Regions from separate parts of the Homo sapiens genome. Here region 2 is linked to region 1. A link means that fine-mapping ties the variant in region 1 to the expression of a gene that starts in the linked region. Tissue or cell type: whole blood. Region 1 holds a variant in brackets; the other region holds the start of a gene. All regions are shown on one strand. Distances are between the middles of the regions.

What was found. PIP is the estimated chance that this variant, and not a neighbour inherited with it, causes the effect.
Region 2: it holds the start of PLOD2, and the variant in region 1 is fine-mapped to the expression of PLOD2 in whole blood (INTERVAL, PIP 0.95).

What each region holds. Positions count from the first base shown.
Region 1 is chr3:146,039,085-146,047,394 of GRCh38, reverse strand. No RefSeq gene overlaps it. Among named protein-coding and RNA genes, the nearest start is that of LNCSRLR, 26 kb to the left of the region's middle. The variant GT/T (reference allele first, on the strand shown) is at 3,395.
Region 2 is chr3:146,157,514-146,165,823 of GRCh38, reverse strand. It overlaps PLOD2 (procollagen-lysine,2-oxoglutarate 5-dioxygenase 2), which reads left to right and starts at 4,640. Exons shown (of 20, transcript NM_182943.3): 1 at 4,640-4,943. The coding sequence starts at 4,835.

The sequences.
Region 1 (8,310 bases):
GTTTTAGAGATAACTTGGCCAGAGTCAACATTTCCTCATATTCCCTATTCGCATTGATTTGTGTTTGAAAATTTAAATTATAGTCATTGGTGGTAATTCAGAAATCATCAGAAATACCCAAGGCCCTGTTCAAACCATGAAACTAGAAATTAATTTGTACATTCATTCACCAAATATCAATTATTGAATACCTTCTCTGTGTCAGGCACATGCTAGGCATAGACATTTAACAGTTAAGCAGAACCAAAACAAAAAACAGGATCTGTGATCACACAGATTGATTTTTAAGTTGTGATTAAGAGATGATATGGTTTGGCTCTATGTCCTCACCCAAATCTCATGTCAAATTGTAATTCCCATGTGTTGGAGGAGGGGTCTGATGAGAGGTGATTGAATCTTGGTGGTAGATTTCCCTCTTGCTGTTCTTGTGATAATGAGTGAGTTCTCATGAGATCTGCTTGTTTAAAAGTATGTTGCACGCCAGACGTGATGGTTCACGCCTGTAATCCCAGCACTTTGGGAGGCCGAGGCTGGTGGATCACCTGAGGTCGAGAGCTCGAGACCAGCCTGACCAACATGGAGAAACCCCGTCTCTACTAAAAATACAAAGTTAGCAGGGCGTGGTGGGGCATACCTGTAATCCCAGCTATTTGGGAGGCTGACGCAGGAGAATCACTTGAACCCGGGAGGCAGAGGTTGTGGTGAGCTGAGATCATGCCATTGCACTCCAGCCTGGGCAACAAGTGTGAAACTCCATCTCAAATAAATAAATAAATAAATAAATAAATAAATAAATAAATAGTGTGTTGCACTTTCCCCTTTGCTCTCTCTCCTGCCCTGCCATGAGAAGACATGCTTGCTTCCCCTTCTCTTTTCTTGTAAGTTTTCTGAGGCCTCCCAGCCATGCTTCTTGCATAGCCTGCAGAATTGTGAGTCAATTAAACCTCTTTTCTTTATAAACTACCCAGTCTCAGACAGTTCTTTTAGCAAGGTGAGTAAGAACTATTACAGAAAATTTGTACCGAGAGTGGAGTATAAAGACACCTGAAAATGTAGAAGTGACGTTGGAACTGGATAATGGGGAAGTGTTGGAACAGTTCAGAGAGATAAGAAAATGACAGGAAGATGAGGAAATGTTTGGAACTTCCTGGAGACTTGTTGAATGGCTGTGACCATAATGCTAATAGTGATATGGACAGTGAAGTCTAGGCTGAGGTGGTCTTAGGTGGAGATGGGGAACTTATTGGGAACTTGAGTAAAGGTCACTCTTGCTATGCTTTAGCAAAGAGACTGGCAGCATTGTACCCCTGCTTTAGGGATCTATGGAACTTTGAACTTAAAGAGAAGATTTAGGGTATCTGGTAGAAGACATTTCTAAGCAGCAAAGCATTCAAGAGTTGACCTGGTTGATGCTGAAAGCATTCAGTTATATGTGCTCACAAACAGAGCCTGACCATGTGGTAGAAAAGAAAATCCCATTTTCTGGGGCCAGGCCCAAGGCCCCGTTGCTCTGTACAGCCTTGGGACATGGCACCCTGTGTCCCAGCCACTCCAACTCCAGCTATGGCTAATAGGGACCAAGGTACAGCTTGGGTCATGACTTCAGAGGGGGCAAGTCCCAAGCCTTGGCAGCTTCCACATGGTGTTGGGCCTGTGGTGTGCAGAAGGCAAGAGTTGGAGTTTGGGAGCCTTTGCCTAGATTTCATAGGATGTACAGAAACACCTGCATATCCAGGTAGAAATCTGCTGCAAGGGTGGAGACCTCATGAAGAACCTCTACTAGGGCAGTGCAGAGGGGAAATGTGAGGTTGGAGCCTCCATGCAGACTCCCCACTGGGGCAGTGCCTAGTAGAGCTGTGAGAAGAGAGCCACTGTCCTTCAGATTCCTGAATGATGGTTCAACCAACAGCTTGCACTATGTGTCTGGAAAAGCCATACGCACCGAACACCATCCTGTGAAAGCAGCTGTGGTGGCTGTACCCTGAAGAGCCATAGGGGAAGAGCTGCCCAAGGCCGTAGGAGCCCACCCCTTACATAAGCATGCCCTGGATGTAAGACATGGACTGAAAGGAGATTATTTTGGAGCTTTAAGATTTAATGAGTTTCCTGCTTGGTTTTGGACTTGTATGGGGCCTGTAACCCCTTTGTTTTGGCCAATTTCTCCCTTTTGGAATGGGAGAAATTTACCCAATGCCTCTACCCCCCTTGTATCTTTGAAGTAACTAACTTGTTTTTTATTTTACAGGCTCATAGGCAGAAGAGACTTGCTTTGTCTCAGATGAGACTTTGGACTTGGATTTTGAGTTAATGCTGAAATGAGTTAAGACCTGGGGGACTATTGGGAAGGCATGATTCTGTTTTGAAATGTGAGAAGGACATGAGATTTGGGAGGAGCCATGGTGGAATGATATGGTTTGGTTCTGTGTCCCCACACAATTCTCATGTCAAATTGTCATTCCCATGTTTTAGAGGAGAGGGTCTCATGGGAGGTGATTGAATCATGGGGGCAGATTTTCCTCTTGTCGTTCTCAAGATACTGAGTGAGTTTTCACAAGATCTTGTGGTTTAAAAGTGTGTAGCCTTTCCCCCTTTGTTCTCTCTCCTGCTTTGCCATTGTAAGACATACTTGCCTCTCCTTCTCCTTCTGCTGTAACTGTTAAGTTTCCTGAGGTCTCCCAGCCATGTCTCCTTTACAATCTGCAGAACTGTAAGTCAATTAAACCTCTTTTCTTTATAAACTACCCAGTCTCAGGTATTTCTTTATAGCCATTTGAGAATGGAGTAATGCAAGAGATTACACCTAGCTCAAATTTCAGTTTATATACTCAACTGTTACTCCACATCTCCACTTAGATCTACAATGGACATCTCAAACCTATCATATCCCCAATTGAATTCTTGATATTCTGCTTCTAAATCTGGCCTTTTGATAATCATCCTTGTCTCATAATACAGTAGTATCCCTTATCCATAGCCTCACTTTCAGTGGTTTCAGATACCTTCAGCAAACTGTGGTCTGAAAATATTAAATGGAAAATGCTAATAATACCACTTCATAAGTTTTAAATTGCACACAGTTCTGAATTGTGTGATAAAATCTCACACCATCCCACTCTGTCCTAACTGGAATGTGAATCATTGCTTTGTTCAGCATATTCTTGCTGTGCACACCACCTGCCTATTAGTCACTTACTGCCCAGCTTGTTGAGTATCACTGTATCACTGTGTTCTGTTCAATTAGCCCTTATTTTAATTAATAATGGCCTCAAAGCACAAGAGTAATGATGCTGACAACTTGGATACACTAAAGAGAAACTGTATTGTGCTTCCTTTAAGTAAAAAGATGAAGTCTCTTGAATTAAGGAAAGCAAAAAAGAAAAAAAAAAAGAAAAAA[GT/T]TGTATGCTGAGGTTGGTAAGATCTAAGGTAATTAACATGGTTTGGCTGTGTCCCCACCCAAATCTCATCTTGAATTGTAACTCCCACAATTCTCACATGTTGTGGGAGGAACCTGGTGGGAGGTGATTGAATTATGGGAGTGGGTCTTTCCTGAGCTGTTCTCATGAAAGTGAATGAGTCTCATGAGATCTGATGGTTTTAAATACAGGAGTTTCCCTGCACAAGCTCTCTCTTTGTCTGCTACCAACCACGTAAGATATGACTTGCTCCTCCTTGCTTTCCCCCAAGATTGTGTGGCCTCCTCAGCCATGTGGAACTCTAAGTCCATTAAAACTCTTTTTCTTCCCAGTCTTGGGAATGTCTTTATCAGCAGCATGAGAACAGACTAATACAGTAAATTGGTACCAGTAGAGTGGGGCATTGCTGTAAAGATACCAGAAAATGTGGAAGTGACTTTGGAACTGGGTAACAGGCAGAGGTTGGAAGAGTTTGGAGGGCTCAGAAGAAGACAGAAAAATATGGGAAAGTTTGGAACTTCCTAGAGACTTCTTGAATGGCTTTGCCCAAAATGCTGATAGCGATATGGACAATAAAGTCCAGGCTAAGGTGGTCTCAGATAGAAATGAGGAACTTGTTGGAACTGGAACAATGGCGATTCTCATTATGTTTTAGCAAAGAGACTGGCAGCATTTTGCCCCTACCCTAGAGATTTGTGGAACTTTGAGCTTGAGAAAGATGATTTAGGGTGTCTGGTGGAAGAAGTTTCTAAGCAGCAATGTATTCAAAATATTACTTGGGTGCTGGTAAAGGCATTCAGTTTTAAAAGGGAAACAGAGCATAAAAATTTGGAAAATCTGTAGCCTCATAATGCAATAGAAAAGAAAATTCCATTTTCTGAGGAGAAATTCAAGCCAGTTGCAGAAATTTGCAGAAGTAACGAGGAGATGAATGATAATCCCAAAGACAAAGGAGGAAATGTCTCCAGGGTATGTCAGAGGTCTTCACAGCAGCCCCTCCCATCACAAGCCCAGAGGCCTAGGAAGAAAAAGTGGTTTTGTGGGCCAGGCCCAGAGTCCCCATGCTGTGTGCAGCCTAGGGACTTTGTGTCCTGCTTCCCAGTCGCTCCGGCCGTGGCTGAAAGGAGCTGATGTAGAGCTTTTGCCATGGCTTCAGAGGCTGCTAGTCTCAAGCCTTGGCAGCTTCCACATGGTTTTGAGCCTCTGGGTGGACAGAGGTCAAGAATTGAGGTTTGGGAACCTCTGTCTAGATTTCAGAGAATATATAGAAATGCCTGAATATAAAGACATTTATATAAAGACAGAAGGTTGCTGCAGGGCCAGGGATCTCCTGGAGAACCTCTGCTAGGGCAGTGTGGAAGGAAAATATGTGGTTAGAGCCTCCACGTAGAGTTCCTAATGGGGCACTGCCTAGTGGAGCTGTGAGAGAAGGGCCACTATCCTCCAGACCCCAGAATGGTAGATCCACTGATAGCTTGCACTATGCGCCTGGAGAAGCCACACACAGCCACACACCCTGTGAAAGCAGCTGGGAGGGAGGCTGTATCCTGGAAAGCTACAGGGGCAGAGCTGCCCAAGACCATGGGCACTCACCTCTTGCATCAGCGTGACCTGGACGTGAAACACGGAGTCAAAGGAGATCATTTTGGAGCTTTAATATTTGACTGTCCCACTGGATTTTTGGCTTGCATGGGGCCTGTAGCCCCTTTGCTTTGGCCAATTTCTTCCATTTGGAATGGCCCTATTTACCCAGTGCCTGTACCCACATTGTAACTAGGAATTAACTAACTTGCTTTTGATTTTACCGGCTCATAGGTGGAAGGGACTTGCCTTGTCTCAGATGAGACGCTGGACTGTGGACTTTTGAGTTAATGCTGAAATGAGTTAAGACTTTGGGAGGCTGTTAGGAAGGCATGATTTGTTTCGAAGTGTGGGTACATGAGATTTGGGAGGGCCTGTGGTGGAATGGTATGGTTTGGCTGTGTTCCCACCCAAATCTCATCTTGAATTGTTACTCCCACAATTCCCATGTGTCATGGGAGGAATCTGGTGGGAGGTGATTGAATTATGGGAGCAGGTCTTTCTTGGACTGTTTTTGTGATAGTGAATGAGTCTCAAGAGATCTGATGGTTTTAAAAATGGGAATTTCCCTGCACAAGCTCTCTCTTTGCCTGCAGCCATCCACGTAAAATGTGACTTGCTCCTTCTTGCTTTCTGCCATGATTGTGAGGCCTCCCTAGCCCCGCAGAACTGTAAGTCCATAAAACCTCTTTTACTTCCCAGTCTTGGGTATCTCTTTATCAGCAGCCTGAGAACTGACTAATACAGTAATAATAAATTTTCTATACATGAAATCGTGAAATAGAAAAAAGAAAATTGTGCTAGTTTTGCTCTTGCTACTCAAACTGAAAAATTTATGGGCACAGTGCATGATAAGTGCTTAGTTATGATGGAAAAGGCCTTAAATTGTGGGTGGAAGTCATGAGCAAAAAATAAAACATATACTGATTGAAGGCAACCTGTTGTACTTGGGCCCATTCAGCCTATATAAAGACTTCAGCAAGGGATTCTTTGAAATGAGTGACACCAAGCCATTTACTACAAGTAAGAGATAATTATACAGATTCAGGAATAGGTTTGAACCTGAAAATATAAAAATTACTGAAGAGGCTGTATCTGCAGATGAAGAAGCTGCACATTTCCAGCAGATTTAAAGGAATTGATTAAGGAGAAAGGATACCATCCAAAGCAAATCTTCAATTGTGATGAAACCTGGCTCTGCTGGAAGAAGATGACCAATAGCACCTACATTCATAAAAGTCCAAAAAAGGCATCAGGTGATAAAACATGGAAGGACAGATTAACTCTGGTACTGTGTGGCAATACTGCAAGGCATGTGATAAAGCCGGGCATAGTGTACAAAGCAAAGATCCAAAACCAATGCCAAAACCAAAAATTATTTGCCCATGTTATGGTAACATAATCAGAATGCATGAATGATAGCCATATTGTTTATGGAATGGTTCCACCAATGCTTCATCCTGGAAGTGAAAAATACTTGGAAGATAAAGGATTGGAATTTAAAGTCTTTTTAATAATAGGGAATGCACTGAACCATCCTGAATATTTGCTACAAAAATGAAAATGTTGATGTTGCATTTTTACCTCCAAATACAACCTAATTGCTTCAGCCCCTTGACCAGGTTATCATCTAGTCTGTCAAGGCCACATAAACCTGCTCAGTATTTGATTGAATTCAATTAGCAATTGATGCAGACTCTAATCTGGACATTATGGAGTGCTGGAAATCACTCACTATTGCTGTCACAATAATATTAATCAAGTTGTAATTGGTGAATTAAAACCAAAACTGCAAATGTCTGCTGAAAGAACATATGGAGTGAAATTGTGAAAGCTTCCTGAAGGTTGATGGCAAAGTTAGGAAAATAATTCCTGCAGCAAAGGAGAAGGATTTGCCAACATACTTGCTCAGGTGGAAGAACATTTTGAAGGCCATCAAGAAGTATTAACAAATAAGAAATTGGAAGAACTTGTTGAATCATCTACAGAGGAATAGGGATACGAAGAAGAATAAAAAACAGAAGCAGAATCAGCAATGTGGACATTACGAAAATTTGCTGACATGTTTTCAGCTGCAAAGACATTAAAGGACAAAATTATGGAATATAATCCTTGGATCAAATGCAGCATTAAAGTCACTCATATGATTATGATTACCAAAGGATTACAACCTCGGCAGCAACACTTTGATGAGTTAAAAAGAAAGAGACAACAAATTTTTATTATGGTTATAATGTTATTCCAAAACATTTTGGCAAAAAACTTCAATTATGGAATCCTCTACCATCACATTGTCTGCTCCAGGCATCCAATCATGGCTGAATGATCCAAGATCACCAGAAGCAGATGATCTTCTTTCTGACTTATTAGAAGCTCAATAGCAGCCTAATGCTCCATCAAAATGCCTGCCATTCACCTCACTTCAGCTCATCACATACATAGGCATTGTATCATTTCACATCATCATCATAAGGGTTAGTACAGCAAAATAAGATATGTTGAGAGACAGGGAGATAGCACATTAATATAACTTTCATTACACTATATTATTATACTTGTTCTCTTATTATTATTGTTATTAATATCTTACTTTACCTAATTTATAAATTAAACTTTATCATACGTATATATGTACAGGAGAAAACATAGTATAGATTCTGGTAGTATTCATTTTCAGATATTCACTGGGGGGTCTTGGAACATATCACCTGTGGATAAAGGAGGATACTATAATGATCACTGTAGTTTACTACTTGCTCAGACAAAAATATATGGTATGATCCTTGACTACTTTCTTTCTCTCATATCCTATATTCAATTCATCTGCACTTTACTTTTAAAGTATGTTCCAAAAACATCTAGTTCCTACAGTATCTAATATGCACAGTAGTCCCAGGCACTATCATCTCTTGCCAGAACTATTGACTGCTACAGTCTTCTAAATGGTCTCTTTCTCCACCTTATTTCTTATAGTCTTTTATCCACACAGCAGACAGAGTGATCCTTCTAAGTTGGTTCATATCACAGCTCTATTCACATCTCTCCATGGCTTCTATTCCAGGCAGAATTAAACCCCAAGTCTACATCAGAGCGTCCATGTCCCCCATGATTGTGCCACTGTGCCACTCACTTCACCACTTTGCCCTCATTCTATCAGTCTTTCTCTTGCTTGTCTTTTCCATGTCCGGGATTATGCCAAGATCATTTCCATCTTAGTGTGTTTGTGTGTATTCTACTGCTTGGAATCCTCTTCCTCAGAAACTCACAGGACTTGTTTTCTCACTTTCGTGTCTCAGCTCCCCTGTTGGCTTATCAG
Region 2 (8,310 bases), 120 kb before region 1:
AATGACCTCTCTGAGGCTTCCTCCTATTCCCCAGTCTCTCTTCTGTAATACTTTTCCTATTTATCTGACTTTAACAGTCTCCTTTGCTGATTTCTTTTTTCCTCTTTCCTCAAAAGGGTCCGCCCTCTCTGAGTTTCAGCTCTTGGATGTCTGGTGGTTTTTCTTTGTCCTCTAATTCATTTAACATCCCCCTTCCTCTGTACCTCCAGGGTTATTCCGCGAATTCCCAAAGCTTTACTTCTTATTCACTCCACAAATATTCATTGAATAAATATTCGTTGACTCCTTTTTCTCTCCTACGCCCACATTCAGACATCAAATTTTGTTGACTCTACATTCAAATCTATCTGGAAATTGACCTTCATTTACTGCTACTGACTTGCTTAAAGCCTCCGTCATCTCTCTCCTGGACCACTGCATTAGCTTTCAAGTTGGTCTACAGGTCTACAGACTTTCTGTTTTATTTCTCCACTCACTCTCCCTTATCTTCCTCTAATGTGGCAGCTGTGGACTCTGTGATCCTTTTTAAATCCTACTTCAGATCATGTCACTGCTCTGCTTAGAACCATCCAAATGGCTTTTCAATTCATCCAGGGTAAAGGACAAAGCTGTTACTAGGTTCTACCCTTATCACACTGTCTGTTTATCTGCTTGCCTCCGCCCTGCTTGTTACCTTCTCAGGCTTCATCTCCTACTATTCTTATGCACAGTCACTGAACATTCAATTGCCCTCTTGCTTCCTCACAACACTCCAGGTATTTCTGGTCTCACAGTCCTTGCACTTCCTGTTTCTTCTGCCTGGAACACAGGTCCCCTGTACATCCTGGCCCCCTCTTTTTCTCACCACTTTCAGGTCTTTGCTCAAGAATCGTCTTCTCAGTGGGGCTTTCCCAGGATCCCTTACTAAGGTTTTGGTATACCTCCCCTCCTTATTGGTCCTTCCCAGTTACCTTTCCTGATTTACTTTCTCTCTACCACTTATTACCTTATATGTTTATCTCTGTTTCACCTGAAACTAAAGCACAGTAGATTTTTGTTTTTTCTGTCACTAATAAATTTGTTTTTACCAATATCTATCTAGAACAATGCCTGAGATATAGTAGTCATGGAATATTTTTTGAATGAATCAATGAATAAACAAATGTGCTACTATGGTACTTACTCTTTGATGATGAAAAATAATTGAATCCTGACCTTAACAGACACACTGTCTAATAATAATTCTAAGAAAAGACCCTGTCACAAATGAGAGAGGTTTGCTTCAGAAGTTAGAAATCATGGAACAGGGACATCTAAACCCATCCTGAGGTAGGGTAAGTTACCCCAGTTGGGCTTCCTGTAGGAGGTGGCACTTGAGCTTGACAGACATTAGCCCAATGAAGGAAGGAGGACAGGTTTTGTCATCCTTTTTTTTTTTAGATATAGGGATAACATGAACAAAGGTATGGTTGCTGAGCAAATGCTGCTTCTCTCATTTCTCCTCAAATTTCCTTACCATTTCTGAGCATGTCACCCTGACTTCTTATGATCAAGAGTTACATCATCAGAGTGGCTGCTACCATAGCAGGTTGGGAATGCCTGGGAATTAATGAGTGTCCCTCAGCCCTTAAGTCAATGACTGATAGGTGTTGGGAATATATATCCCAGTTCTCTGACCCATTGACCAGGATATTTTTGAGTGATATATAGTACATCAATTTTGTGGGATTAAGCTCCCATTACCCACTGTGGTTGATTTAATTGGATATTTTCCCTTTCCTGTGTCATTTTAGCTTCACCTATCTGGTTTTCTCAAAACTCTCCACAAACCGCTAGTCACTGAATTTGGGCTCATGCTTGGGCTTCAGAGGAACCCAAATGATTCCTACCTAAACTTTAGAGAATTAAAGTGACAAAGTATTTGGTCTGCTTTAGGAGATAATAAAGCAAACTACGTTGGTTGGGTTTAGTTTGGCATGAAGGAATCTGAATACTAGGTTAGGGAATGTGGATTGTTTCCAAATCTGTTATGAAATCTGTTTGGGGATGAAGCAATCAAAAGGATATCTGAGTATGATTAATCTAGTTGTGGTATATAGTGGTATTACACTGGTGGTAGGGAAAGTCTACAGGAAATGGCATAGGATACACTCAAGAGTGCATTAGTTAGTGAGGTAGCAGTGAGAATGGAAAGGAATAGATGAAGAGAGAACATGAAGGGAAAAAATGACAAGATTTGGAGTCCGGCTCTGTGAGTTGGCGGGTGTGGGGGATGGAAAGAGAGAAGTAAAAATGTCTGAGGCCATATGAGTTAGAGAGCAGTAGTATCAACAGAGATGAGGGAGCCGAGTGGGATCTGGATTTGATGAGTTAAAAGACATATCAGGCCGGGCTTGGTGGCTCACGCCTGTAATCCCAACACTTTGGGAGGCCGAGGCGGGCGGATCACGAGGTCAGGAGATCGAGACCATCCTGGCTAACACGGTGAAACCCCGTTTCGACTAAAAATACAAAAAAAAAAAAAAAAAATTAGCCGGGCCTGGTGGCGAGCGCCTGTAGTCCCAGCTACTCAGGAGGCTGAGGCAGGAGAATGGTGTGAACCCGGGAGGCGGAGGGAGCTTGCAGTGAGGGGATATCGCACCACCGCACTCTAGCCTAGGCAAAAGAGCGAGACTGTCTCAAAAAAAAAAAAAAAAGACATATCGAGTTTTTGCCAATGGAACATCCAAGTAGAAATGTTCAGCAGATGGCTGGAAATGTAAGAAAGCAGGAAGGATTTGGTTTGAGAATTGGGGCTCTTTCAGACTGTTAGAAATGTCTAGGTATTTGAAAATCCCAACACTTGCTTTATACGAGTCTCACAGCACAGATGTTGTGACTCTTAACAGAGAAGGAAGAATGTCAAAATAACCTGAAATTATTAGTGGACTTTTGGAGTTTAAACACACACACACACCTGTGATGCAGAGAAGCCGGTAAGCATTCATGAGGGGAACGGGGGTTTGGGAGGGCAGGAAGCCAGGTTGTAGCTCTCCAAGTTCTTAAAGATACTGGAGAACCAAGGAAGCAAGAAGTCAAGTTCAAGGAGTTTGGCAATTGCAGGTTTGGCTTTCTGGAGACAGATCTGGCCAAAACACCAGCCATTCCTAGCAGAGTCCTTGGACTCAGAGGACTGATGCTGTTTGCTTTGTGCCTAGTTTTATGAAGCTGTACTTGCCACACATGAAAGGCTGTTATTAAGGAATCCATCTTTTAGCTTTTTTTTTCCCCTTCAGACTAAATAAACCTTATTTCATTCTTCTCACAGGTCATAGTTTCCACTTCTTTAATTATTTGTTACTCTTCTCAGAACTTTCTCCAGTTTTCCTCTTCTTTTAAAAAACTGAGACCAAACCTTCAAAACAGAGTAATAACTGGCTTAGTTCTGGGCACAGGAAATGATTCTTTCTAAAATGTCACATCCCAGGCAAGATTTCTTTGCAGGGTTTTCCACCTGTTTTTAATGCTATCAAGATGAAAGCATTAAGTTCATGTTATCTTGATATGTTAATTTTAGACAAAACGTGATCATAATGGAACACATTTTTCCATAATTTTCTGTCTTAATTTCAAAGGCCCAGAGTTATAACGGGTGTTGTCTCGATTCTGTTTTTTTCTAATTTCACGAAAATTTAGGCAGGAGATTCCAGAATGGTAGCAGTTTGGTTCTCTTTCTCCTATAAAATAGCTTATGTCATTAAATGTATGAGGCAAAACTGTCAAGCTTTTTTCTTAATTGTGCTTTTGCTCCCACTCATTCCAACAAGTTAAACCCTTGGCTAGTTAAAATGTGAGAACAGAAAAAAGGGAATTTTCTTAGACATCAGTCAAAAGTGGAAGCAGTGGGGGCCAAGGCTCAGAGATCTCGACCTCTCCGACCACGTCTTTGGGAGTAATTTTCCATGCGGACTGGAGCACGATCTTGTAAGCACAGCCCCGGCATTACACACGTTGGGCTCCGATTCCGCAGGATTTACAAGCCTCATTACTGGAAAGAGTCTAAGGCTCTCTTGGCACAAGCGGCGGAGCAAGAAATGTTCACTGGACAATAAAACTTTCGGTTTACGGAGTAAAATAAAATCACGGCCTTCCTTTTACAGGGTGATGAACCTGCCCCTGAATTAATGAGGGGCGATCCATTTCCATGGCTTAAGAGTCTGGCGAGGTCCCAGTCAGCCAAGATTGCCGCAGATTTGCAGTCACTTCAGACTGGGTGGAGTATCCAAGTCCATAGAAGAGCAAATTCTCACCCTTCGAGGCTGCTGTGGAAGCTACCGGGGCTGGGACAGCAGAGAGGAACCCAGACGGGAACACCGCCCTCCCGCCAGACTCCCGGCGGCTCCTCCTCCCTCTCCCAAACCCACTCCCAAAGCTAAGTGCAGGCTTCCCCGTTCCAGCCAGAAGCGCTGCGTGAGCCTCCACACGTAGCCGCAGGCAGCTCCTTAAATAGCGTCCGCGCTGAGCAAACAGTCCAGACGTGGGGCCCAGGAGGGCGAGCTGAGGCGACCGCACCGGGCGCGCAGCGGCGGCGGGTCAGCCGGCGGCCAATAGCCAGGGCGCGGCCCGCCCCGTCGCCTCCCCTCGGGGAGCCTATAAGGCCTCCGCAGCGCCCCGGGCGCCTGCTGCTCCGTGCCTCCACCGACGACCTCACTCAGCTGCGTTACGCGCCGCTCCGGCTGCCGGCCGCGCGCCTTGCCCGCCGGCTCCCGCCCGCAATCGGCGGCTCAGGGCGGACCCGGGTCTCTGCGTTCTCGCGAGAAGCGCGGCGCTGCGGGGCCGTGGGCGCCTGAGCCCGCGCGGCCCTCGAGGGCCGAATATGGGGGGATGCACGGTGAAGCCTCAGCTGCTGCTCCTGGCGCTCGTCCTCCACCCCTGGAATCCCTGTCTGGGTGCGGACTCGGAGAAGCCCTCGAGCATCCCCACAGGTGAGCACCCCGCGGTCCGCCGCTGTCCCGCGAGGCTCGGCCGGCGGGGGGGCAGTTCATTCATCCACCAGCCCTTCCGCGGGGCTGGCCAGGTGAGTAGTGGGGGCCTGTCCCTCCTCTCCAGGACCGCCGGGGTCTTCCCCAGAATTGCGGTCGGGCGGCGCTGGTCCCTGGGGAAGTGTAGGGGCACCCGCCCTCGTTGACTCCTTGGAGTTCTCGGTGAACTCAGCGTGCCCGAATTTCCCTGCAGAACAAGTTGGAGTTTCCTTTTGGACTTGCAGGTCATGGGCACCAACACCTTTCCTGCAGCTCTCCTTTCCCCTCCTTTCCGAGAGTTGGCATGGATTTATCCTTGATGGACGAGGCAGTACTCCTTCTGTGACCTAAACACGGGGCTTAGTGTACTTTCTAATTGATGGTGACACATTCCTTCCAGCACCCCAGGAAGCAGCCGGTAACACCTCCCTCTTGCCAAAAACAACGCTCGCTCGAAAACCTTAGTTGTTTTCAGTAAGGCTGCCTGGCTACCCAGTACCTCCAGGCGGCAGCTTTCTTCCTTTGGGATCTGAAGGGGAAGCTGTGGACACACAGCTGCTCCCCTTACCTACCCTTTTCTTGAGCCCGGTGCTGTCTCTCGTTTTCAGAAGCTGTGTAAAACAAAACGTTTTATATTTAGCCAGATTAAAGAGAGTTTCACCACGTCTGTCTAAACATGCTTTGCTGCCTTTTGTGGCACATGAAAAATCCTTGGAGTTTTCCACATTTGTGCTCTTTGTGCTCAACTCTCTGAAATTAGATCTTGCATTTAAATGACCTTCTAATGTCCTTTTTGTTTTGTTTTGTTTTTTGTTAAGTCATCTTGGCACCATTTTTTCCCCCAAGTTTATAATAGAGTGCTTTTCTACTTGAACTTTTCTTAAGCCTAAGGACAGAAATTTCTATTTCAGAGTTACATTCAGAAAGTGACATTTGGTTTGCAGTCCAGCTAATCCATGTAGCGATAGTTTTGTCTTCATCTTTAAGTGTTTCAGAAAGCGTCAGCAGGCTGAACTGCCTATCTTTCTACAAAACAGTGCTTGCTTTGTTAGCTTGAGAAACTTCAGCATTCAGATGGATTTCTATCAGTTACAGGATGCTTTTCTTTCTGTTAGGTATATGTGACCATTTAAAAATGGATTTCTGAACCCGTGTGATTCCTCTAAATTTGAACTAAACTTTTGCATAATTTAAAAATATTTCTTCTAACATAATATCTGGAAAGTAGAAAGTAAATACTTTCAGCAAATTTGGAAGTAGAGAAATTTAAAAAGGAAAAACAGAACAAAAAGCCTTCCCCAGAAAAATGTCTTTCTTTGTTGAAACACCCAAGGAGACTTTAACTGGGAAATAAAATAACCTCTAAGGACTTTGTAATATTTAGAGAGGCCTCTTTGGCCTTTGTATATTTTATTCCACTTCATTGCCAACACCCCTAACTTTTTAATAGAGGACATCCCTTTGTATCTGCCTTTATATTTATAGTCAAAATCAAATTCCCTTCTCACTCTGGATTTTAAATTTCATGGAACTGGACAGTAAACTTTTAATGGATTGTGATATCAGAGAAAGAGAATTTTAGGTATGAAAGTTTCCTCAGGAAACGACCACATGAAACCCACTGTTTAAATCTGAGGACTGGTCACTTGGTAAGCAGGCATGGAGAATTCGGTTAGGGTCGAAATGTGGGAAAATACTAATTTGTGATAGGTGAAGCCAGCAGTAGTCAGTTTGATTACAAATTTCGGTGTAGGTAGGTGTTCTCATAGGTTATGTGATAAACTAATAAATGTAGAGGTAAACTGCTTGATAAAGTGGGCAGAATCATGGACTGTGGTCTATTTTATTCTTTACAAGTTTCAACTGAAAATTACTAAATAGAAGCTTATTCGTTGACATAAATATCAAGATCTTCTATAGGACCCTAAATTGTCTAGCTTAATAGTTCTTTAAGAAGAGTGCTTATCATCTCTAACCCTGTATATTTGTCAACATGTCCCAGCTAACCAAGAAGAAATGGTTTAAATCACAATTTCTTGGCCCTATTGACATTTTGAGCCAGACACTTCTTTGCTTTGAGGGACTATCCTGTGCATTGATGTTTAGCAGTATCCTTAACCTCTGTGCACTAGATGCCAGTAGTATAACCTTTCTAATCTGAGCACCAAAAAAACAAAAAAGGCCTAATGTCCCCAGAGGGACAAAATTGCCCAGGGTTAAGAATCCCTGGATTAGACTAATCTATTTGTATTTGAGGCAATATGGCATTATAGTGTTACTGGAATGATAACAGCAAATTATTTTTGAAAACAAATATTTATAGTGATTTTCAGTTTACCCACTGTAGTTGGGAATGTGATACACATTCATCAATTTTTGGAGTGTAGTTTTTCCTAGCTCTGGTGCTTTGTTGACCAGAGTTGAGAACATAGATTTTTGTTAAATTTTTGAGAGTTCTGTGTGCTGTATTGATTCCTTTTGGTTGCCACTTTATTCTTAGCATGGAAAGACTAAATAAGATTTTGGCTAAAATAATCATTTTCTCTGAAAATAACGTATAGGAATTGTTACCTGAAAATTATATCCTTATGGGAGCTTTCAGAGGCAGAACCTTCTTAATCAGTGCCAGTAAATCAGGTTCATACCCTGATTTATCTTTCCTGCCCTTTCTGCCTTCTAGATGGGATAAGGAGAAGGTGGATGTATTCCTGCCAAGTCTTTGCCGTCATGTCTCCAGACCTGGATAAAATTTGTGTGTGTTTTCTGAGGCACCTTACTATTCTATGATCCAAACTGGGCAGAAACCAAGTTTTGGGCAAAAACAAAGGAAATGGTTTCAAATGTTTCTGTCAAGACCAGTATTTTTGTACCACATTCATTCATTTATAAACTCTCTAATTTACTGTGGTACATTCAAGGAAAAAAGGAAAGGTTTGTCCCTATCTACTGATGCAAACCAGCAATTTATGGGGTGGAGAGGAAAAGAGCAAGGGCCTGGAGAAACCTCTGGAAGAGAGAGGGTCTTGTCCTCTGTACTTTCTGTATTCTGTGCTTCAGCCACACAGAATGACATATCATCCATAAACAGACTGTGCCTTTTATTTCACATGACAACAGACATATAAAACTACTATAGAGAATGTGAAGACAAGAAATGAAAATTAAATTGAGCTACCCTTTTCTATCCAACACATGGGACAAAGCATCTTAAAATAAACTCTGATTGTACCAAATGTCAGGATGGGAATTGACCGTTGATGGAAGCACAGTGTCTTTGGAGAACAATTTAATAATATCTACTGGAATTGAGAATCCGCATGTCCTGTAATCC